Linked DNA regions of Homo sapiens: region 2 is linked to region 1. Evidence: fine-mapped expression QTL. Tissue or cell type: whole blood. Region 1 holds a variant in brackets; the other region holds the start of a gene. All regions are shown on one strand. Distances are from middle to middle.

The links. PIP is the estimated chance that this variant, and not a neighbour inherited with it, causes the effect.
Region 2: RAB11FIP3 starts here. The variant in region 1 is fine-mapped to the expression of RAB11FIP3 in whole blood (TOPMed, PIP 0.99).

What each region holds. Positions count from the first base shown.
Region 1 is chr16:358,489-366,659 of GRCh38, reverse strand. No RefSeq gene overlaps it. Among named protein-coding and RNA genes, the nearest start is that of MRPL28, 8.0 kb to the left of the region's middle. RefSeq lists enhancers at 1,940-2,446, 2,447-2,953, 2,954-3,461, 4,090-4,937, 4,938-5,786. The variant C/T (reference allele first, on the strand shown) is at 4,327.
Region 2 is chr16:420,513-428,683 of GRCh38, reverse strand. It overlaps RAB11FIP3 (RAB11 family interacting protein 3), which reads right to left and starts at 3,035. Exons shown (of 14, transcript NM_014700.4): 1 at 1,964-3,035. The coding sequence starts at 2,677.

The DNA of each region.
Region 1 (8,171 bases):
AGGTGGGGGCGACACGAACTTGGGGACCTGCGACCTTGGTGTCCCCTCCTGCTACCTCCACCTGACCTGCAGGGTGGAGGTTTGGCCAGCGGGAAGCCGGGCTGTGCACCCTAAGGCATTTCCCGCCCTGAGGTTTTGGGGGTACCTGACCCTCTCCCCCAACCCTTACCTGGAAATCCTGATCCTCCGGACCCATTCGGTTTTCCCAGGGAGCACAGAGGGAGGGCTCCCCCAGCTGCATGTGCAGAATGACAAGGGGGGGTTTATGTCCCCTGAGCCTAAGCCAGCCCCAGCTGGTGGCAGGATGGGGTGAACTGGAGGCAGCTGCCTGACGTGGGCCTGCTGGCTGATTGAGGGGCCCCTGGCTCCCAAGGGGGCTGTGGCAGAGTCCAGAGGGAGTCTGCAGTTGGCCCTGCTGGACTGCAGGGGAGCACGTGGCTCCCGGGGCCGCAAGGGGTCCCTGGGGTCAGGACCTGCCTGGTTCAGAGCCCTGGGAGGGCCCCCGAGGTCTCTTTCCACACCGGGCACCTCTGCCGACATGTCCTGCTGCTCCCCACACCAGTGCCTTCATGTGATGCCCCTGCTCTGTGAACGACCTTGAAAAAAATTTTAGGCCAGGCACGGTGGCTCACACCTGTAATCCGAGCACTTTGGGAGGCCGAGGCGGGTGGATCACGAGGTCAGGAGATAGAGACCATCCTGGCCAACACGGTGAAACCCCATCTCTACTAAAAATACAAAAAATTAGCTAGGCATGTTGACACATGCCTGTGATCTCAGCTACACGGGAGGCTGAGGGAGGAGAATCGCTTGAACCTGGAAGGCAGAGCTTGCAGTGAGCTGAGATTGCACCACTGTACTCCAGCTTGGGTGACAGAGCGAGACTCTGTCTCAAAAAGAAAAAAAAAAAGGCCGGGCGCAGTGGCTCACGCCTGTAATCCCAGCATTTTGGGAGGCCGAGGCGGGCGGATCACGAGGTCAGGAAATCGAGACCTAACACGGTGAAACCCCATCTCTACTAAAAATACAAAAAAGTTAGCTGGGCATGGTGGCAGGTGCCTGTAGTCCCAGCTACTCGGGAGGCTGAGGCAGGAGAATGGCATGAACCCGGGAGGTGGAGGTTACAGTGAGTGGAGATCGCACCACTGCACTCTAGCCTGGGCGACAGAGCGAGACACCGTCTCAAAAAAATAAATAAAAATCATACCGGGCACTGTGGCTTACACCTATAATCCCAGCACTTTGGGAGGCTGAGGCAGGCAGATCACCTGAGGTTAGCAGTTCAAGACTAGTCTGGACAACATAGTGAAACCCCCATCTCTACTAAATACAAAAATTTAGCCGGGTGTGGTGGCGCACACCTGTAATCCCAGCTACTTGGGAGGCTGAAGCAGGCGAATTGCTTGAACCCGGGAGGTGGAGGTTGCAGTGAGCCACGATTGCACCATTGCACTCCACCTGGGCAACAAGAGCAAAACTCTGTCTCAAAAAAAAAACACTTTATGAAAAACAGACAGTGCTCAGTCAGCTCTGTGGGGCCATGAGGCTCAGCCCAGCTGCCCACAGCATGAGTGCTGTTCCGTGCCCCAGCTCTAGCCAGAGTTGGGATGTTGTGGCCACGCCCTGCCCTGCACAGTTCCCGTGTTCAGCTGTGAACTTAAGCCAAGCCCCCTCCAGCCCCTCGGCCTGCCCCTGACTCCCTGATGGTGTGTGTGTCCAGCACCTCCCAACTCAGGCCTCGGTGGCTGCCCCTCACTCACCACCTGCTCTTTCCCACCCCAACCAAGCCCCACGGTAAGCAGGGCTCCTGCCAAGGCCTGTAGGGCTTCCTGGGTCAGACTCTGGGGGCCCCAAGAAGTTAGGGGCCAGGCTTGGCAATGGGCTGGTAGGCGCTGGCCTCGGTCCCCCTGTCGGCCATGGTGGCACGTGCTTATCAGTGTGTCCTGACTTGTGTTGACTCAGGGTTGTGGGTTTGGGACCAGGCTACCAGCTGGCCAGTGGGAGAAGCTGCATTTGGCCTCAGCAGGTTACCTCCTCTGCCAGTCACCTCGATGGAACCCATGGCTGTTTAGTCCTCCCGCAGGGGAGGCCAGGCCAGACTGAGGTGGGGTCTGGGTGTGGCCAGGGCCCTGACAACTTTCTGGTCAGAGGCCACAAAAGTCCTTGACTGAGAAAAAGGTAAGAGGCCTTCCGTAAATGCCGGACCCATCCCTCAAGACCAAACCGTGACTCAGGTCTGGGACAGACCCAGCAGCTGGATCCAGCATGCTATTCTGCCTTCTGGGTTGTGGGGAGGGGTCCCAGGGACTGTACCGGCTCCAACATGTGTGTGGGGAACTGAGAACTGAGCTGGGAGCCCGGGCAGCCAACCTGGGAATGGCTGCTGGCCACCCCTCCCCGCCCTCCCCGCCCTCCCCACGCCCACCCCGCCCTCCCCGCGCCCACCCCACCCCTTCCCTGCCCTCCCTATGCCCACCCCACCCCTTCCAGAGCCAGGCCGGGCTGGGGCCACCAGACCCTCCTTCTGCCATCCTCACCAATCACACCTGTCAGGCTCCTTCCTGAAGTGTTGGACTCCGTCTCTGAGAACGGCCAGTTCTCCCTCACTGAGGCGTGCAGACCCTCAGGCACCTGGAGTGGGAGAGGGATCTGTGCAGAGCAAGATCAACCCCACAGGAGGCAGAGCTGCCCTGGGCCGGCCTGCACCAGCCCCAGCCTCTCGGAGCCCTCAGGGGCCAGGAGTTCCCCACGCGTGTCCCAGGCTTGGCAGAGGCCATGTGTTTCCATGACAACAGTCAGCCGCGGTGTCGGGCAGAGAATGGGCTGTGGACCTGAGGGTGGACTCCGGGGTGGACCCTCACGGCTATGGGCAGGGATCCCTTGGGGGTAGAAAACTGGAGGACTGGAAGGGGTGTCAGTGACCCCATCACTCCACATAGAGACGGGGAAGCCAAGGCCAGGAAGGGTAGGGTGGAGTGGATGTGAGGCTGGCCTGAGGCACCCAGTCACAAGTCCATGTCTGACCCCTGACCCCAAGGGTCTCGCCTGCTTCCTGAGTCCTGCTCAGGTGCACAGAGCAGCAGGATAGTGGAGGGAAGGGCATGGAGAGCGGGCGGGCCCTCTGGGTCGCTTGGCAACTCTGCTCCTGTCCTGTGCCCCCGTCAGGGTGCTGGGAGCCCAAGGGAGCTGCCGGGAGACCACTGTGTGTCCCGCGGGCCTGCTTAGGGCTCCGCCTCCACCTTCAGTCCTTGGCCGCCCTCGCCCTCTCACCAGTGCCCGTCTGTAACTCCAGCCCTCTGCTGGCCCCAGGCACGGGCTGGATTGTGTGGGGCTCCCAGGCTCCCTTGAGTCCCTGTCCCTCTGACACCCACCAGCCACCCAAGCTGGAACCCTGGCCACATGGCCACACCCAGCAGCCTGGGCTCCCGTGCGGTCCTGGCTCCCTCTGCCGCAGCGCCCCGCAGCCCTCCCTAGGCGGGCTCCAGCCTTGGACCATCCTCCCTAACCACTGCCTGCTGTCCTGGGATGGTGTCCCTACCCACATCCTGTCCCCAGACAAGCTGGTAGCTCTGAGCATGGCATGGGAAGGGCTTCAAGGCCGGGTTCCATCCTGGGACAGGCGGCTCACAACCAGGCCAGTGCGAAGAAGCTTGGATCCGGACCCAGAGTCCTGGGGGAGCAGCCGCGGCCCGAGACCCCCGGCGCCCAGAGTCCTGGGGGAGCAGCCGCGGCCCGAGACCCCCGGCGCCCAGAGTCCTGGGGGAGCAGCCGCGGCCCGAGACCCCCGGCGCCCAGAGTCCTGGGGGAGCAGCCGCGGCCCGAGACCCCCGGCGCCCAGGCCCATGCCAAGCCCGGTTCCCTGGGACTGGCCCCGAAGTCGCTCTCTTGAAGGTGGATCCCCATGGACCATGCTCCAGGCTCCCCTGGATCCCGGGTCCCTCTGATGGCCTTGGTAGTGGCCTCCCTGGGCTGCAGCAGCCCAAGGCTCTCGCTTGCTCCTTGCAGTCCTGCAGCTGTTCATCACCAGATTCTGCTCATCGGGTGCTGGGCCTGGGCCAGGAAGTGGGACTCAGCTTCCCGGGCTTAGGGGAAGCCTTCGAAGGGGTCTTGGCCAGGCAGTGCTGCTGTCAGAGCGCGTGGACAAGCCAACACTGTTTCTGGCTGTCACGGGGCTGGGGGCAGGGGGTGGTTCCGGGGATGCTCAGTGCCCTGCAGTGCCCAGGATGTCCACGGGTGACGGTTGAGAAGCCTCGTCTCCAGACATACGGGAAAGCTTTGCCAGGGGCCAATGCTGGTGCGCCCTGGAGGGAAGAGGCGTTCTTGGGA[C/T]GCAAGAGGGCACTGCAGCCCAGGGGAGAGCGGGTGCAGCCGCAGGTGTGTGACTGATGGCGAGACGGTCTCCTCAGTGTGGCCAAAGACCCAGAGTCCTGCCCAGTGGGAACCCAAGGTCCAGGGAGCAAGGCCTCGGGAGGGGCCTCAGGGGGCTTGTGAGACGGGACTGTGTGAGCACGTGCACGTATTCCACAGGCCGCAGCTAACGAGAGGGTGGCGGAGTGGACTGTGGGCGGAGAGAAAGCTGGCAGCCTTTGCCGTCTGAGGTGGGCGAGAGCTTGGCTCTGCCCAGTGGGGCTGGGAAGTTCTCCCTGCTCCCGCTTCCACTGCTCCCACCCTTTATTTTCCCACCAGACTGGGCCTGGCCTTCAGCCCCTGAGGCAAGCCTGACCTGAAGTCCTCCTCTCAGCAGGGGCTGCAAGGCCAGTGCTTCTGCCTCTGCTGGGGGTAAGGCAGGGCACAGAGTGGCCCCGGACAGGCCAGGAGAGGGGCAAGGACCCCACACACTGGACATGAATGAAACACACGGAAACGCTTAACAGCTGTTGTGGGGACAGCTACCATGCAGCCATGCCCACCTCGTTCCTCCAAGGGGACCCTGGCATGGGCCCACGGGCAGTGCCGCCTGCTCCCTCAGCAGTCAGGAGTGGCTCGGGGGTGGCGGTGTCTAAAGGGGCTGGTTGCCATGGCTACCATAGGGTTCTGAGGCCCGTCATCTGGTCCCTGCCTCAGCCAATCGGCGGCAGGAGCCCGAGCTGCAGCCCAGAGTCACGCTTCTGCCTCCCAGCCACACAGTGGCCAAGAGCAGGGACCTGCTTCCCAGAGTGGCTGAAAGTGCTCGGACGGACGGCCAAGCCCATCATGGCGGACAGCGGGACGGTGGGGCGTGAGCAGGCACACGGAGCCAGGCAGGTGAGGTAAGCCGGGCAGGCGGCCGGGCGGACAGGTGGACGCGCCTCCTCTGCCCATTGTTCTCGCGGCTGCGGCCCTGCCCTCGGCCCACCCCACCCTCGAGTGCAAGCCCACACGCAGCGCCCGCACCCTCACCCTCAGACCCTCTCCGGGTGTCCCGAGGAAGGGTCAGGGGAAGAGACAAAGGGAGCAGGGTGAGGCAGGATGAATCCTGACGGACCTCGGACCCCAAAACCGCCCCGGTGGGTCTTCCACGTCAGGTTTCACATGGAGGCGGCATCAAAGACCCCCGACTGATCCAGGCCGGCGTCCCGGCCGCCACTCCAAGGTTAGGAGACAAGCCATGTCAAGTCGGTGCCGTTTAAGCAGCATTTTTTCGAGGAGAAAAAAAAAAAAGAAACAGAAGCGATATAAAGAAAAAAAATGTCCACCTATGACACGGGAAGCGGCCAGCCCGATGGATCAGAAGCGCCAAATCCCATTACTCGGGACTTCAGGGACAGGCCCTGCAAGGGCAGCTGCGATTAAGAGCTTGTCAATGGACTCTCCTTTAGAGATCAAAGCGGGGCGTGCTTGTGTGTGTGTGCGTGTGCACGTGTGTGCGCGTGCACGCGTGTACGTGCAGGAGCGGACACTGTGGGGTGACAGCACAGAGGTCGTGCACCGCAGCACCACGGGGCCCATACGTCGCCGACGCGGCCACCTCCACACTGCTTGCGTCCTTGCTGCCGTGTGCGACGTGTGTGGACGCGGCTGGGGGCCTGGGCCGGGTACCTGGTCCCAACACCTGCACCCTTTCAAAGGCCTCCACCTCCTGCTAGAGGCCGTGCCTTCCCCAGGTTCTGCCCAGAGGAGCCCGCAGGGGCCGAGCTGGGTGTGAGGACAGCCGTGGCTGCGTCTCCTCCCCCCGACCACGTCCTGCTGCCCACAGAGGCCTTGAGCTCTCAGTTGGCCTGGCAGGCGCGCCCTGGGGGTTCAAAGCTCCCGTTGACACGATTGTTAGGTTATTAGGTAAACTCTGAGACGTAAATCTTTTAATCCACTGTGGCTAATCCGGTTCACTTTTGTTTGCCACGACAGACGCCGCGGCGACAAAGGGGCCTGGGGCCCAGCACACACAGTCACACGCTCAGAACTTGGCCGCGGCCTCAGGGTTCCTAGGCAGTGGAGAGAGACATCTTGGGACAGCCAAGCAGAGGGAGGCGGCGGAGGGCACAGGTGGGCGGGGGCGCAGGTGGGCCGGGGCAAAGGCAGCTGCCCGCTGGGGGCCGCACTTCCTCACCTCCCATTTAATGTCCCCTTGCCAGCTCGAGGGGGAACCGCTGGGCACTGGGGTGTGCAGGTATCGGGGCCGCTGGGGATAGTGGGCAGAAGGACAGATGAGCACCAACGGGGGGGCGGCAGCGCCCGGAGAGGCGTGTGGGATGGAGGCCGTCAGGGCAGGGAAGGGCGTTCAGGTGAGGGAACAGCAGGGACAAGGACTGTGGTCGGTGTGGCAGGGGCAGGAGTCCCCCCAACAAGGACAGGAAGCGGCCTGAGGCTGCCCAGGGAGGTGGGACGTCACCTGCTACTTCCCGAAGTCAGCGCGAGGCCCCTCGGGGCATGGCCCCTGCACTTGGATGCCACCTCTTTTTGGGAAAACAGCACTGAGGTTGGGGGAGGCCAGCAGGCCCTGCCCTGTGCTCACAATGTGCCTGGGACACCAGACCTGGTCCATGGCCAGCCGTGGGCTCCATCCCGCCACCCGGCCTGTCAGAGAGGGTCACACACGGACCTCTGGGGCTGTGAGGCCAGGTCAGGACGATCACTTTGCCCAGGGGGACACTGGCACAAGGAGGTGCCTGCTTTGCCTAGGGCTACAGGCTGGCCCAAGACAAGGATGGGCACTCAGGTCTCCTGGGAGGCAGGTGCCAGGCCAGGCCCAACAGTCCCCTGATGTCAGCAGCTCCCGAGTTGGGAAGTGGTGGCCGCCCTCCCCTCCTACTTCCCCAGCCCCTGCGGCCGGACCCTCCAGGCAGGCCTACTTGACCACATCCTGGTATCCACCTGGCCCCAGTCCCAGCCCCTGGACACCCTGGGGTCAGAACTCTTCAGAAAGGCAGTGCAGGAGGACTCCCCTCAGGACACTGGGAGGTGTGGACAGTACCCTGGGATGGAGGGGACCGCCTCTGGGCCGCCTGGCTGGCCAGGCCCCCGCCCTGTTGCCAGTGCTTTCCTGTTGGCCTTGGCGTCCTGACCCTTGACCCCTGGAGGCCAGCGGGGATGTGGGGACTGTCAGGTCTGCTGGACGGGGCTGGGCGCAGGCGACGTGGGTGACGGCAGGTCTGGGGCCTGCCCCAGGGGACAAGTATGGACCCGGAGCCAGCGGGGACCAAGCACTGTGGCCACAGCAGCCGTTTCATTTCTTTTTCTTTTTTTTTTTTTTTTTTGAGATGGAGTCTCACTCTGTTGCCCAGGCTGGAGTGCCTTGGCACAATCTTGGCTCACTGCAACCTCTGTCTCCTGGGTTCAAGTGATTCTCCTGCCCCAACCTCCCCAGTAGCCGAGATTACAGGGGCCTGCCACCATACCTGGCTAATTTTTTGCATTTTTAGTAGAGATGGGGTTTCACCACGTTGGCCAGGCTGGTCTCGAGCTCCTGACCTGAGGTGATACGCCCACCTTGGCCTCCCAAAGTGCTAAAATTACAGGCGTGAACCACTGTGCCTGGCCTAATTTTTGTATTTTTAGTAGAGACGGGGTTTCACCATGTTGGCCAGGCTGGTCTCGAACTCTTGACCTCAGGTGATCCACCCGCCTCAGCCTCCCAAAGTGCTGGGATTACAGGTGTGAGCCACCGAGCCTGGCCACACACAGCACCCGTTTCTTTGGGCCCCTGCCCCGCAGCGGCTGAGTGGTTCACCCTCCACCTCTCTGTGGGTGGGTCCTCC
Region 2 (8,171 bases), 62 kb before region 1:
GGTCTAAGGGCCAAAAGACCTAGTTCTACTCCTGTGAGACCTTGGGAGAGCTATCTGACCTTTCTGGGTTTCCAGTTTCTTACCTGTAAAGTGGGGATGAATCCTGCTTACCTACTATCTCAGAGAACTGTGGTATGATCCAGTGGAAACATCCTGAGCCTCACAGAAGTTCTCTATCAAGAGTTGGGTTATGGTAACAAGGAGCAAATGTGGTACTCTCCTAACTTCTTTGCTGTACTGAAGCAAGAGTATGTTTGGGAGAAGAGACAGCGCAGTAGCCAACAGCAACCAAGGGAGCTCAAGGTGCTCTCCAGCCCAGGGGCAAGAAGGAAACGCAGCAAAACACCTGGACCAGCAACCACCATCCACGCTGACCATACAGGAAAGTATCAGTCACATATTTCACTGCCCATTAGTGTAGGTGGAAAACTACCCTGACAATATCCCAACCGGAGCTAAGCTTGCGAGCATTGCAGGCTGCCCCGCACGCACCTGTCTGCACATCTTCTTAATGTGAACTCAGCAAGGAACCCTGATTTATCAGGACCCTGTGTTTTTTGTTTTGTTGCTGTTTTTTTTTTTTGAGACGAAGTCTCGCTCTGTCGCCCAGGCTGGAGTGCAGTGGCGCGATCTCCGCTCACTGCAAGCTCCGCCTCCCGGGTTCACGCCATTCTCCTGCCTCAGCCTCCCGAGTAGCTAGGAGTACAGGTGCCCGCCACCACGCCCGACTAATTTTTTTGTATTTTTTAGTGGAGACGGGGTTTCACCATATTAGCCAGGATGGTCTCAATCTCCTGACCTCGTGATCCGCCCGCCTCGGCCTCCTAAAGTGCTGGGATTACAGGCATGAGCCACCGCGCCCGACCATCAAGGTTCTTAATGTTATGACTGACACCCTAAATAGCAGTGTGCCAATTTTACCTCTTTTCTTACAGACCTCTTGGCTTAAACATGCATATGTACTTGAACACCCACTTACCAGATGTCTGCATGTGTGAGAAGTCAAAATACAAAAAATTGACAGATGCACCTTAGGGATTTCCTGCTAAGTAAAATATTTAAAAGTGAGCACTGGTATTATTTGATGTCCACCGGGTTATTGGCAGAACACACACGGCCCTGCTGTTATCTCCACTTAAACTTTATTAAGTGCTGAGGTAGACAGGAACAACTGCATCTTGGGGCCCACCTTTCCCCCAGGAGCAGGTGCCCTGAGGACCGCGTGGACCCCTTCCACACTGTACTGTGCGTAGTGCCTGTCCACGCATTTCACCTCTCCTACGAGAGTGGACGTGGCCCTAACGGAGTTCTGCTAGACTTCTGCATTTGCCAACAAGCTCCGAGGCTCATTGCCTTCCTCCCCAAAGGCACCAAAGTAAAAATTCTTAATTCCAGGACTCTCTACAAGCATTGACTGTCTCCCAAATAAAAGATGAAATCTAAGTAGAAAAGATGTCAACCACACACAGTAAAGTAATTGTACTCAAAATAGGTGTCTATCAGTAGGATCTCAAGGCGTCTGGGCAGCCTGGCCTCTGCGGCTAGAACTTGGGTGAATTCAGCCGAGCAGTATCTGGGCCCTCGGGTGGGGGAATCGCGGGGAACTTCTTCATTCAGGGGCACGTCGATCAGGCACCCTGGGGGGGTGGCGATCAGGCCCCCTGGGGGGGTGTCCCCAGGCGAGGAGCTGACCTCGGTAAGATCCAGCTGACGAGGCGCTGGGGGGAGGGGAAGAAACTGACTCCCCAGAATAGAACCTCCTTTTAAGAAGGGAAGAGGGACTCCAGCGCAATTCAACCAGAAATCCAGGGCCGAAGTGGTGAATAAGCAGAAAAAGCAGGACCGTCAGGTCTTGACAGTGCCTTTCCCGACTCCAGGGGCAGCGTCGACCGGTCCCACATCAACCCCGCCGGCCAGCGCGCACCTGCCCAGTTCCCACGCCCCGGCCCGGGCCGCTCCGTACCTGCTCTGCCCCGTAGACCGTAGCAAACTGGATGAAGTCCTCGATGCGGACGAAACCGTCCCCATCCCCGTCCAGGGCATCGAACACGGCTCGGAGGCGGGGGCCGTCCTCCTGACTCCCCACGGGCTCGCTCGGAAGGGGGTGGGTCTGGCTGAGGTCCGAGGGCTGCGGCGGGGACCCGGGACCTTGCTCCAGCGCCAGCTCGCCCGCCGTGGGCGCGGGGAAGGGAGAGAAGACGTCGACCTCGCCCCGCGCTCGGTGGCTGCTGCTGGACCCCTGCAAGCGGAAAGGCGCGCTCTCCGGGCAGCTCGCGGGGCCACACTCCTCGGGCTCCTCAGTCCAGGAGAACAACGGGTCGAGTTCTGGAAGCGGCGCTTCGGAGCGCGGCCCTGGGCCCGGGGCGTCGGGGCTCGCAAGCTGCCCCCGCGGGCCGGAGCGCGGCGGCGGGGCGGACGGCCCGGGGTCTCGCGGGCCTCCCTCCAGCCCCGGGGCCGGCCCGGCGCTCCAACGCGCCCCGCCATCTGCAGCGGCCCCGGGCGCAGGCTCATCCAGGCCCGGGGACTGCGGGTCGGGGCCGCCGACGGGCGCTCCGAGGCGTAGCTCCGCAGGGCCCGGAGCCAGTTGTGCCGCCCCCGGCCCGTCCGGCCCGCCCGGCTCCGGGTCGGGCCCCGGCGGCTCCGAGCCCGGGGGCGAGGCCGGCGGGGCCGACGCCATGCTCCCGAGAGGCTAGTGGTGCGGAAGGGCGCGGGCGGCAGACAAAGGCGCTCAGGGCGCGGCGGCGGGCGCGGGCATCCCCTCGGCGGCGCGGGCGGGCGCGCGCGGGGCGCCCGGGCTGCTGGGGCTGGCGCTCGGGCCCTGCTCTGTCCTCGCCCATCTTCGCACCGCGCCTCAGCTGCCCTCGGCCCGGCGGCGCGGCGGGCGCAGGCCCATGGCGGCGGGGCGGCCTAGGGAGGGCGGCGAGGATCCGGGCGGCGGATGGCGGGGGACGGGGGCCGAGGAGGCCGGGGGACGGGGGCCGAGGAGGCCGGAGGCCGCGGAGCCTGTGAAGCAGGATGAGGAGACTAAGGAGGCTGAGGCGCCTGAGGTACCCGGAGAACTAACGCCGCCGCCGCCCAGGCCCCGCCCCCCGTCGGGCCTGACGTCAGCACGTCCCGGCGGGGTCCCAGCCCCTCGCCGGCTTGCTGTAGAGGCAGGCGCCGGGTGTGTCGCGGCAGTGCAGCGGCCGCGAAGGGGTGTTTTGCTGTATGTCATATTCCTCGTTTCGCCAGAGCGGGGGTCCCGAGCTTCGGGCGCGGGACGCGGGGGTGCTCCGAGGCTGCGAGTGGAGGCGTGACGTGACGTCCCTGGCAAGAGGCGCGCGGAGTCAGGCCTTACTTAGAACGTGTTCCCGCCGCACAGCTACCAGCGGGCGCGACCGCTACCCACGCATGGTGCGGTCGAGTAAACGGCACCGCCTGGCGAGCGAGAGACGCAAAGGGACATAGCCCCCTAGGAGCTGAGCTCTTCGGGGGTAAAGCGTTCTCACGTTGATGAGACCAGGAGGCGGCGCACGCCTGGCTCCGCGGCCCAGGGGTTGCAGGTGCCCCAGGGTTCGCGGGGCGCAGACGCCGCAGAGGGCGACGCCCTGCCCGGGTCCCGCGCGGACCCGGGGGACGCAGGGTCTGACACGGAGTGCGGAGGGGCCCCAGACACGCAGTCCATGTCCCTTGAAACCAGAGGCACGCGCGGCCACGCGCTAGGCCTTTCCCTTAAGCCTGTGACCAAGATCTCCGGGACTCCCAGCGTTGGGACGGGCGCGCTGGCCCACGCCCAAGCGGGAGGATCGCTTGCGCCCAGGAGATTGAGACCAGCCTGAGCACCAAAGCGAGACCTCGTCTCTACAAAAAATAAGACTCAAGAAGACACCCAGGGTGAATCGCCCGTCTGCAGCCAGCCTCCCGAGCACCGTGGCCGCGTCTGACAACTGACCTCTGTGTCTGGGTGTCCCTGTCCTCAGAGGGACACGGGACCTCAGAAAGGACCACAGCCCGGCGGCAGGCATGATGGTGGGAAAGCTAGTTAGGACAGGTGAGGCACTAAATTTAGCCTGTCATAATTTGTATCAGGGAAATGATGAACTTGTATTTTTACACACCATGGGCACCAACACAAGATATGGTTTCGTAAGCAGCTTTGGCAAGAACCAAAGGAACGGAACCTCTGCTTCCAAGTGTACGGTCAGGAGCAGCGTGTTAATTAAGTGAGTCATCTTCCGTGGCAGAATCCCAGGGTACATGGGACCAGACTTCGCGAGGCTGGCATTAGGAAAAGGAATGTGAGGGATCCTCCTCCCCAAACCGTATTCTCATTTTCTTGTAAGAGCTGTACGTGTTCATGAGGAAGATACTGCATTCAAAGAACGAAATCACCAGCAGCTTTGGCAAGAATTCAAATTTGGGCTGATGCCTTCGGCCGGATAAAATTTTCAGAAGCAGTGATAGTGATGTGTCAACCTTTCTAAATAGGGGTGTTAGTGTGGGCGAGGCAGAGACAGCAGGCTCCCTCTGCTTTTATGTGCCGGCGCTGCCAGAGGCAGAAGGCTGGCTTTCTGAGAGCAGGGGCCCGCACGCTCTGTCTGTGCTAGGGCTGGAAAACGTCCATTGCGTGCCCGGCTGGTGTCCTCCATGGAACCACAGCCTGGAAGCCTGCACCTCCCTGCCTGGACCAGTTAGAGGCTGTTCATGAAAGACTAAAGGGACAAGTTCCCGTCTATCCGTCTGCTGTTCAGAGCTACTATCTGTGTCCCCTTTGTAGGCTGTGGGCTGTAGCAGTTCCTTCTTTTCTTTTCTTTTCTTTTTTTTCCCCGAGACAGGGTTTTGCTCTGTTGCCCAGGCTGCAGTGCAGTGGTGCGACCATAGCTCACGGCAGCCTCAACCTCCTAGGCTCAAGAGATCCTCCCACCTTAGGCCAGGTGTGGTAGCTCATGCCTGTAATCCCAGGACTGTGGGAGGCTGAGGCGGGCGGATCACGAGGTCAGAAAATGGAGACCATCCTGGCTAACACGGTGAAACCCCGTCTCTACTAAAAATACAAAAAAACAAAAATTAGCCAGGTGTGGTGGCAGGCACCTGTAGTCCCAGCTATTTGGGAGGCTGAGGCAGGAGAAAGGCGTGAACCCGGGAGGCAGAGCTTGCAGCGAGCCAAGATTGCACCATTGCACTCCAGCCTGGATGATAGAGCAAGACTCCGTCTCCAAAATAAAAAATAAAAATAGAAGAGAGATCCTCCCACCTCAGCCTCTCCAGTAGCTGAGACCACAGATCTGCAGCACCTTATTATCTTTTTTTTTTTTTTGATATGGAGTCTCACTCTGTCGCCCAGGCTGGAGTGCAATGGCGCGATCTCTGGTCACTGCAACCTCCGCCTCCCGGGTTCAAGTGATTCCCCTACCTCAGCCTCCTGAGTAGCTGGGATTACAGGCGTATGCCACCAAGGCCGGCTAATTTTTTGTATTTTTAGTAGAGACCGGGGTTTCACCATGTTGGTCAAGCTGGTCTCAAACTCCTGACCTCAAGTGATCCGCCCACCTCGGCCTCCCAAAGTGCTGGGATTATTGGCATGAGTCACCACACTTGGCCTCAACATGCGTTTTGGAGGGTATAAACATTCAAAGCATAGCCTCCATCTTCTCACTCTGTCCTCACATGTTGGAGAAAGATTGTCTCTTTTGGGCTGGGCGTGGGAGCTCATGCCTGTAATTCCAGCACTTTGGGAGGCCGAGGCGGGTGGATCACGAGGTCAGGAGTTCAAGACCAGCCTGGCCAAGATGGTGAAACCCCGTATCTACTAAAAAATAGAAAATTTAGGCCGGGCGCGGTTGCTCAGCCTATAATCCCAGCACTTTGGGAGGCAAGGTGGGCGGATCACAAGGTCAAGAGATCGAAAACATCCTGGCAAACATGGTGAAACCCTGTCTCTACTAAAAATACAAAAATTAGCCGGGTGTGGTGGCACCCACCTGTAGTCCCAGCTACTCGGGAGCCTGAGGGAGGAGAATCGCTTGAACCTGGGAGGCAGAGGTTGCAGTGAGCGAAGATCGCACCACTGCACTCCAGCCTGGCGACAGAGCGAGACTCCACCTAAAAAATATATGTATATATTAGCCGGCCGTGGTGGCGGGCACCTGTAATCCCAGCTACTCAGGAGGCTGAGGCAAAGAATTGCTTGAACCCGGGAGGTGGAGGTTGCAGTGAGTCAAGATCACACCACTGTACTGCAGCCTGGGTGATGGAGTGAGACTCTGTCTCAAAAAAAAAGAAAAAAAATTATCCGGGGGCGGTGGCGGGTGCGTGTAATCCCAGCTACTCAGGAGGCTGAACAGGGTAATCACTTGAGCCTGGGAGGCAGAGGTTGCAATGAGCTGAGATCCAGCCACTACACTCCAGCCTGGGCAACAGAGCGAGACTATCTCAAAAAAAAAAAAAAGGCGGGCGTAATGGCTCACGCCTGTAATCCCAACACTTTAGGAGGCCAAGGCGGGTGGATAACCTGAGGTCAGGAGTTCGAGACTAGCCTGGCCAACATGGTAAAACCCTGTCTCTACTAAAAATACAAAAACTAGCTGAGCGTGGTGGCGTGTCCTGTAATCCCAGCTACCTGGGAGGCTGAGGCAGGAGAATACTTGAACCCGGGAGGTGGAGGTTGCAGTGAGCCAAGATCCCACCATTGCACTCCAGCCTGGGCAACAAGAGGGAAACTCCATCTCAAGGAAAACAATAAAATAAAAATAAGGCTGGGCACGGTGCCTCACGCCTGTAATCCCAGCACTCTGGGAGACCGATGCGGGTGGATTACCTGAGGTCAGGAGTTCAAGACCAGGCTTGCCATGGTGAAACCCCATCTCTACTAAAAATACAAAAAATTAGCCAGGCATGGTGGTGCATGCCTGTAATCCCAGCTACTTGGGAGGCTGAGGCAGGAGAATCACTAGAACCTGGGAGGCGGAGGTTGCAGTGAATCGAGATTGTGCCATGGCACTCCAGCCTGGGCAGCAAGAGTGAAACTCCGTCTCAAAAAAAGAAAAAAGAAAAAAAAAGACTGTCTCTTCTAATAAGGGCACTGTTCCCATCGTGAGGGCCCCACCTTGCTGACCGTATCTAACCCTAATTATTATTATTATTATTTTTTTTTGAGACGGAGTCTTGCTCTGTCGTCCAGGCTGAAGTGCAATGGCGCCATCTCAGCTCACTGCAATCTCTGCCTCCCGGATTCATGCCATTCTCCTGCCTCAGCCTCCCCAGTAGCTGGGACCACAGGCACCCGCCACCATGCCTGGCTAATTGTTTTGTATTTTTACTAGAGCCGGGGTTTCACCGTGTTAACCAGGATGGTCTCGATCTCCTGAGCTCATGATCCACCCGCCTCGGCATCCCAAAGTGCTGGGATTACAGGCGTGAGCCACCGCGCCCGGCCCTAACCCTAAGTTATACCTCCCAAAGACCTCATCTCCAAATACCATCCCGTTGGCGTTAGGACTCCAATATATAAATTTTGGGGTAGCAACTGGGAAGAGAGAGTTAGAATGGATTTAATGGACAAAATATTCATTTCTAGAATACACAAAAGAATTTCTCAAAAAACAGTAAACGAACAGCAACCCGATAGAAAAACGAGGAAAGAATATGAATAAGCAGCTCCAGAAGAGGAAATTCAGGTGGCCGGTAAACACATGAAAAAGATGCTCATCTTCACTGGTCACCAGGAAAATGTGTGAGTGTAGCCCTTGACACCAATCAGAGTAAGTCTGGGGACACCAGGGAGTGGGGATTTGGCACCAGTCGTGCAGCTGAAGGTCGGAATACTCCAGTGTGGGATCCGCCTTCCAGTACCTGCCGGAGAAACTGCACATGTCCGCAGGGAGATGGAAAGACCTTGTTTCCTTCGGGGATTTGTACTTCTCTGGAAGAAGAGCCGAACGGCTTCAGTGGAGCCTGTTGTCTGTTGTGAAGTGTAGCAGTTTAAGTGAGTGCACCACATCTGCACAATTGATAGTACATGCTATGTAATACCATTTTTCATTTATTTTTTTAGACAGAATTCTGTTCTTGTTGCCCAGGCCGGAGTGCAGTGGCACGGTCTCAGCTCACGGCAGCCTCCATCTCCTGGGTTCAAGCGATTCTCCTGCCTCAGCCTCCCGAGTAGCTGGGATTACAGGTGCCCGCCACCACAC